Linked DNA regions of Homo sapiens. The protein of the gene in region 2 purifies or fractionates together with the protein of the main gene of each other region. This does not show direct contact. Each region holds a gene or a part of one and is shown on either strand. Other genes may lie near its edges.

Evidence for each region.
Region 1: the proteins of MPHOSPH6 (region 2) and ZFC3H1 purify together in Homo sapiens (affinity purification with mass spectrometry; 3 studies listed by BioGRID and IntAct, with this or other methods). This does not show direct contact.
Region 3: the proteins of MPHOSPH6 (region 2) and DIS3L purify together in Homo sapiens (affinity purification with mass spectrometry; 3 studies listed by BioGRID and IntAct, with this or other methods). This does not show direct contact.

The regions. Positions count from the first base shown.
Region 1 is NC_000012.12:71,662,304-71,666,128, forward strand, and holds the start of ZFC3H1 (zinc finger C3H1 domain-containing protein), read right to left. Parts: upstream 1,546-3,825; 5' UTR 1,308-1,545; coding exon 710-1,307; intron 520-709; exon of another isoform or gene 1-519. Other genes in the region: THAP2 (THAP domain-containing protein 2), read left to right, coding at 2,207-2,277. UniProt on the Homo sapiens protein: Subunit of the trimeric poly(A) tail exosome targeting (PAXT) complex, a complex that directs a subset of long and polyadenylated poly(A) RNAs for exosomal degradation. The RNA exosome is fundamental for the degradation of RNA in eukaryotic nuclei.
Region 2 is NC_000016.10:82,168,119-82,171,943, forward strand, and holds the start of MPHOSPH6 (M-phase phosphoprotein 6), read right to left. Parts: upstream 2,107-3,825; 5' UTR 2,058-2,106; coding exon 2,007-2,057; intron 1-2,006. UniProt on the Homo sapiens protein: RNA-binding protein that associates with the RNA exosome complex. Involved in the 3'-processing of the 7S pre-RNA to the mature 5.8S rRNA and play a role in recruiting the RNA exosome complex to pre-rRNA; this function may include C1D.
Region 3 is NC_000015.10:66,324,568-66,328,167, reverse strand, and holds part of DIS3L (DIS3-like exonuclease 1), read right to left. Parts: intron 2,338-3,600; coding exon 1,804-2,337; intron 1-1,803. UniProt on the Homo sapiens protein: Catalytic component of the RNA exosome complex which has 3'->5' exoribonuclease activity and participates in a multitude of cellular RNA processing and degradation events.

The DNA.
Region 1 (3,825 bases), on a different chromosome or scaffold from region 2:
ATTAAAATAAAAATGCTGATAAGTTTATCTTTCTCTCTCTGGCCCTCATTTAGTCAGCACGAAGTTACACAATGTGCAAAAGTGAACACAGATAGAAACGTAAAGGAGGTAAAGTGTTCCAAAAAGATCAAATGAATCAAAAAGCTCTGAAACAGACTTGGTAAAGACACCAGAGTTGTTTTTTTTTTACCCCTCCCCCCCCCACTTTAAAAGGCAGCAACCGGAATAAATCAAGATAAAAACAGAATCACAAAAATAGTGCAGGACTGTGCAGATTAAAACTTTACAATTTTCAACGTCAAACTGCAATATGATAAAGCAACAATATTACTTAAACTGTTTATGAATATTTTTTCTCTAACAATCCAAGTCAACTTCATATAAAACACAAAGTTTCTGTACCAGCAAAAATACAAATGCTAATGAAACTTGGGCTTCTAAGGTATTATTACAAATCAGACTTAACTGTCTTAGATTTCATAAGCTTAACCCAATCCACAGCACGTTAATATACCCAATGAAGCAGTCTTAAGAATAACGCTATAGTGTGACACATGGGGAATTACCAAAGAACAACTTAAAGTATACTGACACAGGGAGAAATAAGCGGTTCTGATGATTCAAAGTTACACTCGTCTCACAGACCTAGTAATGACGCTAAAGGGAACTTTAGTGACACACCCAGCGCCGACCGCCACGTTAAGGATACAGCTCTTCCGAGGTGGAGAGGGCTCTCGCCAGCTCTGACTGCTGCTGAACCCGGATCCTGCTCCTCCTCCCAGAGGAGGTCTGCACCCCGGCTTGCCTCCTCGCTCACCCACTCCTCGCCCCCGACTCCAGCGACTCCCACCCCGGTAAGGCCTGCCTCGAAAGCGGAAACGGTCCAAGGCGAGGTGGCTCCGCTCCCAGAAAGACGGCCGGGGACTGCTTTCGGACAGTGAGCTCGAAGGCATCCGTACAGAAGGCGGATGAGACCGGAACGGTTCTTTGGGTCGGTAGCTGCTGGGTCCCCTGAGGTGGCCCCGCTCAGACGCGTGCCGCGAGCGTGAGAAATTCCTCAGCTGCTGCTGAGAAGAGGACGATGACGAGGAAGAGCCACCGCCTCCGCCAGATCCACCGCCCCGGGCCGAGTGAGGAGGCCTTCGCCGCGGATAGGGTAACAGCCCGCCGCCGCTGCTGCTGCTGCTGCTCCGACTCCGTATCTGGCTGTTATTATCGTCGTCACTGATTTCCCCATCTTCAAGCTCCCCTTCTTCCTTCGGCGAGAGGCCACTGGAGGCCGGGGCCGGAGTATCTGCGGTCGCCATCCGGGGAGCAGCGCCTTCCACACAACCTTAGCCCTCCGTCCGGGGATCCGCCCGACAATTGCCTCGTTTCCCTTCTTTCCTAACGGACTGGGTCGGTGCGGTCTTACCCTACTCGGACACCAAGCGGCCTCTGCTCCCCAACTTCCCCGCACCCCAGCACCCCAGCTCTCTCTCGCCGGACCGTCGCAACCCAGTTCCCTTTCCTAGCGCCCCCTTGCTCCTCAGCGATCGGGGTTCTTCCGCCTCGCGAGAAAGGGACTCTGGTAGCGGCTGTACCCGAAACGTCACTTCCTGCGACACGCAGGAAACAAAGGCTCCCAGTTCACGCGATAATAAGACCAACTCGATACTCACTAGGATTTGTAGTCTTTCGTCTTTCTTCGGGTTTACTCTTCCGGTCCTAGGGTCACACCCACCGCAGGGTCTGGCTTGGTACAGTTGGGTGCATGCAGAAGTAGGTGGAGCTGCTGTTGCAGCCTTGAGAGAGTTTTATTGTAAAACTCTTGTAATTTATAGTAATCGGAGGGGAAAACACCTCTTCCTTTTAATTGCTCTGAGGACCGCTGCCAAAGAAACGCAGTAGATCCGCTCCCTCTTGGGGGCGGGGAGAAAGAACGGGTTGTGTCCGCCATGTTGGTGAAGTCAAGCGAAGGCGACTAGAGCTCCAGGAGGGCCAGTTCTGTGGGCTCTAGTCGGCCATATTAATAAAGAGAAAGGGAAGGCTGACCGTCCTTCGCCTCCGCCCCCACATACACACCCCTTCTTCCCACTCCGCTCTCACGACTAAGCTCTCACGATTAAGGCACGCCTGCCTCGATTGTCCAGCCTCTGCCAGAAGAAAGCTTAGCAGCCAGCGCCTCAGTAGAGACCTAAGGGCGCTGAATGAGTGGGAAAGGGAAATGCCGACCAATTGCGCTGCGGCGGGCTGTGCCACTACCTACAACAAGCACATTAACATCAGCTTCCACAGGTAACCTGGGCAGGGAGTGGGGGTGACGGAAACTGGAGTTCCTATTGTGGCTATCGCTTGTGTGGAAGGAACAGGAGGATTCTGCTAATTCTAATAACTTTCCCAGCTGGTAGCAGGGAAGCATCGTATGTCCTTTGTGTTTCTCAAATCTGCCCAATTGTTCTCTGCTTTCGGGGAAGCTTTACTCATTTTCTAAAAGAAATCCAAGTACTGTTTGGTCATTACCCCTTAGTAAAAAAAAGTAACAGGAGGATATCGTAATTTTCTACTGTTTTATTCCTCTGTTAGACCGGGCCTTGACATGAATGACGCCGTAAGGGAGAAAGAGATCTTCCCAATCAGCAATCACCGTAAAAGCCTGCTGTGTTCCCGTTAAAATTAGGAAATTCTCACTAGATGAATTGACATGGGAGGCATTTAGATTTCTAATAGTCACATAGTAATTCTGCGGAGGAATTGAGTCATCTTTGATAGCCATGGAATTAAGCGATGTTAATTAAAGTGCAAAAGATAACCTTTCTGTTCTTACTAGAATAGAGTAATAAAAAGAACCTAGGTTTTCTTTTGTTTGCTGGAAGAAAAATCAAAATTCTTTAGTTCTGTCAAACCAGAACTCTTGAAAGCACTTTGAACAATGCCTGGAAAATAACAGGTACTCTGTAAATGTTTACCTTCTCTGCAAGTGCCTGCCACGTGCCCGAAGAAAAGACACATTAAAAAGTTAAGTGACACCAGTCCTGATTTTATATATTTTATATACCTAACAACGTATATGTTAGTATGTAGAAATTATATCCTTGACCTTTTTCCCTACCTATTACGAACTGTACTTTTATTAAAAGCTGCCACTTAAAAAAAATCTTGTGATGTTTCTGTTTTTAAACTAGTTCATGCATATGTAGTGCTTTGTTCATTCATCCATCAAATATGTACGGAGTTCCTAATTACCTGACATTGTGCTAAGGATCCAGAAAGTTCTAACCCTCCTGGAATTTAGAATTTAATGGTGGAGAAAGACATAAATAATTAAGTGCCACAGAAGAAACATTCAGAGACCTAACTTAGTCTTGGAAAGTCAAAGAACACTTTTTCAAAGGATGTGACATTTCAAATGAGACCAAAGGATGACAGATTGGGTCCTGTGTGCTACTTAAGTATTTTCTGTTTTATCCTAAGAGTACTTGAGAAACCATGGAGGGTTTAAAAAAGAATGGCACGATTAGATTTGCATATTGAAAAGTCCTCTGGCTGCAGTGTAGAGAATCGTAGTGTTACTGAAAGTGCTGGTCAAGCATCATCGGGAATGAACTTGATGAGAAAGGAACTTATTACAGAATATTAATTTACCTATTTTTTTCCTTCACAGGGAAATCTTGCTACAATGTCAACTAAACTAAACCCTTTACTCAGTTGCTGGCACAATCAGCATTGAATTAGGGAATGTGTGAGCTGACAGAGAAAAACTAGTTAGGAAGCTGTAGTAAATAAAACAAGGAAAGTCCACCCAAATTTCTAGACTAGGGTGATATTAGAGTAGAAATGGAGAGG
Region 2 (3,825 bases):
GGGGTGGACATTTAAGTTAATTTCTTTCTTCTTAGTTGCAACTCGGATATTTAGTTTGAGCCTGAGTCACCCAGTACATCATCTGGCTTATTCCAAGAGCTAAAACAACTGCTAAAATCTTTCCAATATCTGCTTGGCCAATTCACTCCACTTCTCTGAAGTTAATGTTATTACCAACCATAAAATCAAACTCTGTTCAGTAAAGATTCAAATTTTGCTAATATGCATGAAAGTGCTTGACAAACTCTAAGTTATGCTGCAATTTGTCCTCCACCCTCATTCACCCATTCATCCCTAACTCCATCCTAGCTCAACTCCATTCAAATCTTGCCCATATAATGTTTACTCTCTCTCTTTTTTTTTTTTTTTTGAGACAGGGTCTCCCTGTGTCACCAAGGCTGGAGTGCAGTGGCGCCATCTCAGCTCACTGCAGCCTTGATCTCCCAAGCTCAAGTGATCCTCCCACCTCAGCCTCCCAAGTAGCTGGGACTAAAGGTGCGTGCCACTAGGCCTGGCTAATATTTTGTATTTTTTGTAGAGATGGGGTTTCACCATGTTGCCCAGGATGGTCTCAAACACCTGGGCTTAAGCGATTTGTCTACCTCAGCCTCTCAAAGTGCTGGGACTACAGGCATGAGCCACTGCGAATGGCCTATCTTTCAAAACATTATGAATGCTTCCTTCCCTCTTTTGGAAATTCCACCTCTTTAAACATGACATGTAACAGTTTGCTACTCTCTAGAAGTAGTGCTTAGTGACAGGCATCACAGAGTACAGAGTAGTAATAAAGAGCCAGGGTTCTGGAGCCAGACTGCCTGAATTCCCGTCCTGTCTACACTACTTATTAGCTGTGTAACTTTGGGTAAATTACTTATTTCTGTTTCAGTTGCCTTAGCTGTAAGAAGAGAGTTACTGCCTGTAGTCACCTCAAAGTGTCATTATGTGAATTGCATAGGTTAATATACGCAAACCACTTCAATCATTGTCTAGTACTATAAATATTTGCCATTTTCTTGATACTGTTCCCCGTTTCAATAGCTTTCCATTGCTCACAAAATAAAGGAAAATATCTTTAATCTGGCCTCAAATTCCCTGCACGTTGTGACCATTGCCTACTCTGCAACCCCATTTCTTAGTACTTGCCTTCCAGACATACTGAATTGTCTCTAATTCTTGGAAATTTCCATGGTTTTCTTTTTCTTTCTTGCCTCTCAGACTTCTGAACTCAGTTTCTCCTAGTTTAGGACGCTGTGCCTTCCACCCTCCCAGTAACCTAGAGACTACCCTGCGAGACTCACCCTCTTCTCCCTGGAAGAAGAGGGAGTTCTGCCAGCAGACTGTCTTTGGACTTGGACTGAGTACTTCTCTGGGTCTCCAGCCTACTGGCCCACCCTGCAGATTTTAGACTTGCATCTCCACAGTCGTGTGATCCAGTTTTAAAAATACCCCCTCTCTCCATACACATATATACACATATACATCTTGTTGATTCTGTTTCTCTGAAGAACTCTACTAAAAGAAGTATTATCAAAATTAAAAAGGAGCTTGAACTCATGTAGCCTAATGCTCTTCTTTTTAAAGATGAGGAAAAGAGATATTCAGAGAAAGAAGTGAATTTACCTAAATTACCCAGCTAAGGAGTTACACTTCCCATATATCATATTTATTGCATATATAAGTAAGCAACAACTTCTCGAGAAGCTCGGTGAGTCCCCAAGGTCCCCAGCGCTTCTACCCTCACTGCACTGGGTAAGCTGTACCCTGACTGCTTCTGTGTACTCAAGCTCCCATCCGCCCGCGGGCCTCCTGAGAGAGTCGGCCTAATTCGTAAGCTGGTTCCCAGTAAACAGTGCAGAGCAGGCGCTAAGTGAATGAATGAGCACGAGAGCTGGAAGCCCTCTGAGGCCTCTCTGGTGTCCCTTGTCCGCCCGCCGCCTCGGCCCCGGCCAGGTTGGAAGGACCGGGTGCCCCTACCGCCCGGAGTGGCGCTCTCAGCGTCCCCGCACCTTCATGCGCAGTAGATTCTTGGACAACCTTGTCTTTCGCTCGGCCGCCATGGTAGCTTCCGCCCAGCGCCGCACTCCGGCCGCGAGCCTCACCGCACATGCGCGGAGCCGCGTGCGCAGCTGCGTCCCTCGCGTAGTGCGCGCCGCCCCGCCCCGCCCCTCCCCTGTGTCTTGCGCGCGGGCGCGGCCACTCAGCGGGCGCTCTGCTGACTGAGAGGCTCGGGTAAGCTCGCGGGGTGGCGGGCGCGGGGATGAGCGCGGCAGACCGCAAAAAAGCCGAAGTCAGAGGACGACCCAGAACTTGGCTTCCCCGAGCCGCGGGTCGCCTTCCCGGGACGTCGGCCTGGCCCCCTCGGAGGCCCATCCTCCCTCGGGGACTCCCTTCCTCAGGGACCCCCTCCACACTCAGTAGTCCTCGCCAGCCTCAGAGAGGTTTCCGCCACGCCTGCCACCCGCCTGGGCCGTGTTACCCACGTGTTTTGTCTTCATAACGTGGGTGGCGGGCTCCCTTTGTTCTGGGTCGCTTTGCAGGGTCCAGGTCGTTTTCTCTTCACCAGGACCCCACGAGTTGCTGCTTTCCTCACAGCAGCCCGGAGTCCCGGGGGAGCGCGGCGGGGGCCGCCCCAGGCAGGCTGGCTTCATTCCCAGGCTGCTGCCGATGCGTGTCTGGCCGAGTGATCTCTGCTAAACAGAAGAATCTCAAGAAATGGCAAGGGATGGAGGCAGGGATGGGTGCCAAAGACACATGAATGAGAACAAAGCCTGGTTTTGATCCAAAGAATTGAAAAGACCATAGCGAGGGGCAACATAGGGAGACCCCACCTCTACAAAAAAAAAAAAAAAAAAAAAAAAAAAAAAAATATATATATATATATATATATATATACACAAAAAATATACAAAATATACATACAAAAAATATATACAAAATATACAAAAAATGTACAAAAGATACAACAAAAATAGCTGGGTGTGGTGGCACGGATCTGTGGTCTCCACTACTTGGGAGGCTGAGGCTGGAGAATCACTGGAACCCGGGACGTCGAGGCTGCAGTGAGCTGACATCCCGCCACTGGACTCCAGTCTGGGCTACAGAGTGAGGCTTTGTCTCAAAAACAAAACAACAAAACAAAAAAGAATTTAAAAAACCACTGAAAATAGGGTAGCGTTCCTACCCTGGTGTTTAATGCTCTGGGTACCACCTAAACACGTTTTCGAAAACCATTCCCAGGTCCGACGCTTTGGAACACCCTCAAGCTAATAGCATCTCGGCTGATACCATGAGTTCTACGTCAGATTGTTGACCTGGTCACCTTAGGGCTAATTAGTTCACTTAATCCCCATAAGAACCGGAAAGAAGGTATTGTCATCGTGTTGTTAAGGATTCTGAGACACAGAGTGGGTAACGCACTTGGTGTTCACACAGCTAATCCATGTTAGAGCTGAAATTCAAACACCGATTTGGATGTTAAAAGCCCTTTAGGTTTTCCCAGGGGTAAATAAAATCATTGTAATGTACCAAGTGGCTACAGAATCTCATTCACTTGTGACTGTGTGTGAGATGCCGGGGGTATAATAGCGTGTAAAAACACATATCCCCACCTTTCCTGAAGCTGATATTCTGGACGTAAGTAAGTGGCGACTGCTATGAAAGAGAGAAAACAGTGATGTGACAGAGTAACGCTTAGGGTTACTTTAGACCAGGTGGTTTGGAACGGCCCTTGTCAGATGATGGTGCTAAGGCTTGAAAGTTGAGAAAAACGTGTTTTATGAAGAGTTGGAGGTAGAGTGTGCTCAGAAGACAGCATCAACTGTAAAG
Region 3 (3,600 bases), on a different chromosome or scaffold from region 2:
ATCTCTTCAGACTTAATTGACTTATCTGTAAATATGAATGATGCTGCCATCACCTCAGCATTAAGAATTAACCAAGAGGATGTCTGAAAGCCCTTGTCCCATGTGCCTGGCATGCAGACAGCTCATACAGTGACCATACAGAGGCTGGAGTGTAGTGGCACAATCTTGGCTCACTGCAACTTCTGCCTCCCAGGTTCAAGCGATTCTCGCACCTCAGCCTCTGAGTAGCTGGGATTACAAGAGTGCGCCATGCCTGGCTCGTTGTATTTTTAGCAGAGAGAGTTTCATCATGTTGGCAAGGCTGGTCTTGAACTCCTGACCTCAGTGATGTGCCTGCCTCAGCCTCCCAAAGTGCTAGGATTACAGGTGTGAGCCACTGTACCCAGCCTATACTTAGTTTTTATTTATTTATTTATTTATTTTTGAGACAGAGTCTCGCTCTGTCACCCAGGCTGGAGTGCAGTGGTGCGATTTTGGGTCACTGCAACCTCCGCCTCCCGGGTTCATGCCATTCTCCTGCCTCAACCTCCCAAGTAGCTGGGATTACAGCACCTGGCTAATTTTTTGTATTTTTAGTGGAGATGGGGTTTCACCGTGTTAGCCAGAATGGTCTCGATCTCCTGACCTCGTGATCTGCCCGCCTCGGCCTCCCAAAGTACTGGGATTACAGGCATGAGCCACTGTGCCCAGCCTGCCTATACTTGGTTTTTAATGAAAGAAGTATTTTATCCTAGAGATAGGGAGTAAAAATGTCTCACTCAATTGAGGGTGGTATAAATTCACTGTTGGTGTAGTATCTTATGATATTGTCACAAAGATGCTGCATTTTAAAAGTACTGAAATAAATAGGATTATTTCTTTGTAACTTAAGGGGTACATGAAATTAAATCAAGGGTAACTAACAGGTTCCCTACTTCTGTATTACAAATTATGGTGGGTCAGCCACACACAGTGGCTCATGCCTATAATCCCAGCACTTTGGGAGACCGAGACGGGCGAATCATGAGGTCAGGAGTTTGAGACCAACCTGACCAACATGGTGAAACCCTGTCTCTACTAAAAATACAAAAATTAGCCAGGCGTGGTGGCACATGCTTGTAATCCCATATACTCAGGAGGCTGAGTCAAGAGAATCGCTTGAACCTGGGAGGCGGAGGTTGCAGTGAGCCAAGATTGTGCCACTGCACTCCAGCCTGGATGACAGAGCGAGACTCTATCTCAAAGAAAAAAAAAAAACCAACCGAACAAAAAAACCCAAATTGTAGTGGGTCAAAATTATGCCTAAATGTCCAGTGTGGTGGCTCATGCCTATAATCCCAGCAGTTTGGGAGGCCGAGGCAGGTGGATCACTTGAGGTCAGGAGTTCAAGACCAGCCTAGCCAACATGGCGAAACCCTGTCTCTACTAAAAATACAAAAAAATTAGCCAGGCATGGTGGCGTGTGCCTGTAGTCCCAGCTACTCAGGAACCTGAGGCAGGAGAGTCACTTGAACCTGGGAGGTGGTGGTTGCAGTGAGCCGAGATCATACCACTGTACTCCAACCTGGGTGACAGAGCAAGACTCTATCTAAAAAAAAATTGAAACAAAAAACCAAGGAACAAAATTATGCCTAAATAAACTTGTTTTAAGTCTCTATACATAACAATGAAGAGGGAAAAATGTGTCTTCAAAAATGAGGAGAGCCAAGAATCTGTTTTCTCTTTTTGGTCAAAGATCTGGCTGTCACATTTTAAGAACAACTGTAAGATAACTAAATATACAGCATGCCACTCCATTCCTCTGCCCCCTCAAAAGAGGAATACCGTGTATCTATGAAGAAGCCTTTGGCTTTAGCACATTCCCGGAGTTCTGAAAAGAACTCCTGGTGTGGAGGAGGGTGCTGGCGCAGCAAGGCCTGATGAGGGAAGCTCTCCCAGATCTTTTTGGCGACCCAGTGGTTGGCCAGGATCATGCATTCAGCCACTGTCTCGTGGACTTCCAGGGGCTGCTTGGGGATGAGGTCGTGAATGTTCTTTTTGTCATCTAGCTGTACGCAAACCTCTACCCCTTCCAGTTCCAGGGCACCACATCCGTCTCGTTTAGCTCTGACATGGCGAGCTATGTCGGTCAGCTTTCCAATTGCCCACACCAACTCCTCCAGCTTGGCTTGTCTGCTCTTCTCATCCAAGTCTTTGAATTCTGGAATATCATCAACAACGCTTAAGTTTCCATCCAGTAGTTCTTGGGCTGCTTCATAGAACAGTTTGTATGCTGATCGAATAATGGTTCTGCCATACCACACTTTCTTAATTTCATAAGAGGCTTTATCCAGTTCCCACATGATGCTTACAGCATACCTACAAAAACAGTAACATTGACAACATCACTATTCAAATTCATCTGGCTTTTTTTGTTTTTTGTTTTTTTGAGACAGGATCTTGCTCTGTCACCCAGGCTGGAGTGCAATGGCATGATCACTGCTCACTGCTGCCTCAATCTCCTGGACTTGAGCAATTCTCCTGCCCAAAGTGCTGCGATTACAGGTGTAAGCCACCATGCCCCACCTAAGTCTTCTATTTTTGAAGCAAGTGGAATTTGACCTAACTGTAACTTAAAAGAAATTACAAAGCTACAGGTTTCTGGTTTGTCAATCCAACCACCTTACAACTAAATCAAAAAATATTTTAAATTAAAACAACAAAGTTAGACTGGGGACTGTTGAGCTCTGAACAAATTTGAAATGAGTTCATATGTGACATTACAAACCTTACTTTATGTCCTCCATTTTTTTCTTGAGATGGAGTCTTGCTCTGTTGCCTAGGTGGGAGTGCAGTGGTGCGATCTCGGCTCACTGCAACCTACCTCTTCCTGGTTCAAGTGATTCTCCTGCCTCAGCCACCTGAGTAGCTGGGACTATAGGCGTGCACCACCATGCCTGGCTAATTTTTTCTATTTTAGTAGAGACGGGGTTTCACTGTGTTGCCCAGGCTGGCCTCAAACTCCTGAGCTCTGGCAATCCACCTGCCTTGGCCTCCCGAAGTGCTAGGATTATAGGCGTGAGCCACCGTGCCCGGCCATGTCCTCTATTTTGATTAGAAAAGCATGACACTGATAGAGTCAAGTCTTTTTAGCTCAGTAAATTAGAGCAAAGTCTTGCAAATCCTACAGGATGGCACTGAACTGTGATATCAATCTTGATGACAGATAAATTAGCAAAAATTTCATTTAGTAAAAAAACTCTTTGCCACCAAGTCATTTTATTTAAAAAAAAGGTATACATTTGGAACTCATAAAAAACATAGGGCTAATTTTCCTAATATGTAAAGAGCTTTTACAAATTAATCAGTAATTGATCTTGAATCCAAAAGAAAAATGGGCGAAGAATATAGTTAACAGAAAGGGATACATAAGTGACAAACATACGAAAAAATGGTTAGCTTTATTTGTAATGCAAATTAAAACCAATCTAAGATACCATTTTTCATCTATCAAATTGGCAAAGATAAAAAAATACAACATATTGTGTTGGCAAGGCTATAGGAAAATATGCACTCTCATACATTGGTGACAGGAATATAACTGGTGTAACATTTAAGAAGGGCAATTTGATTATATTGATC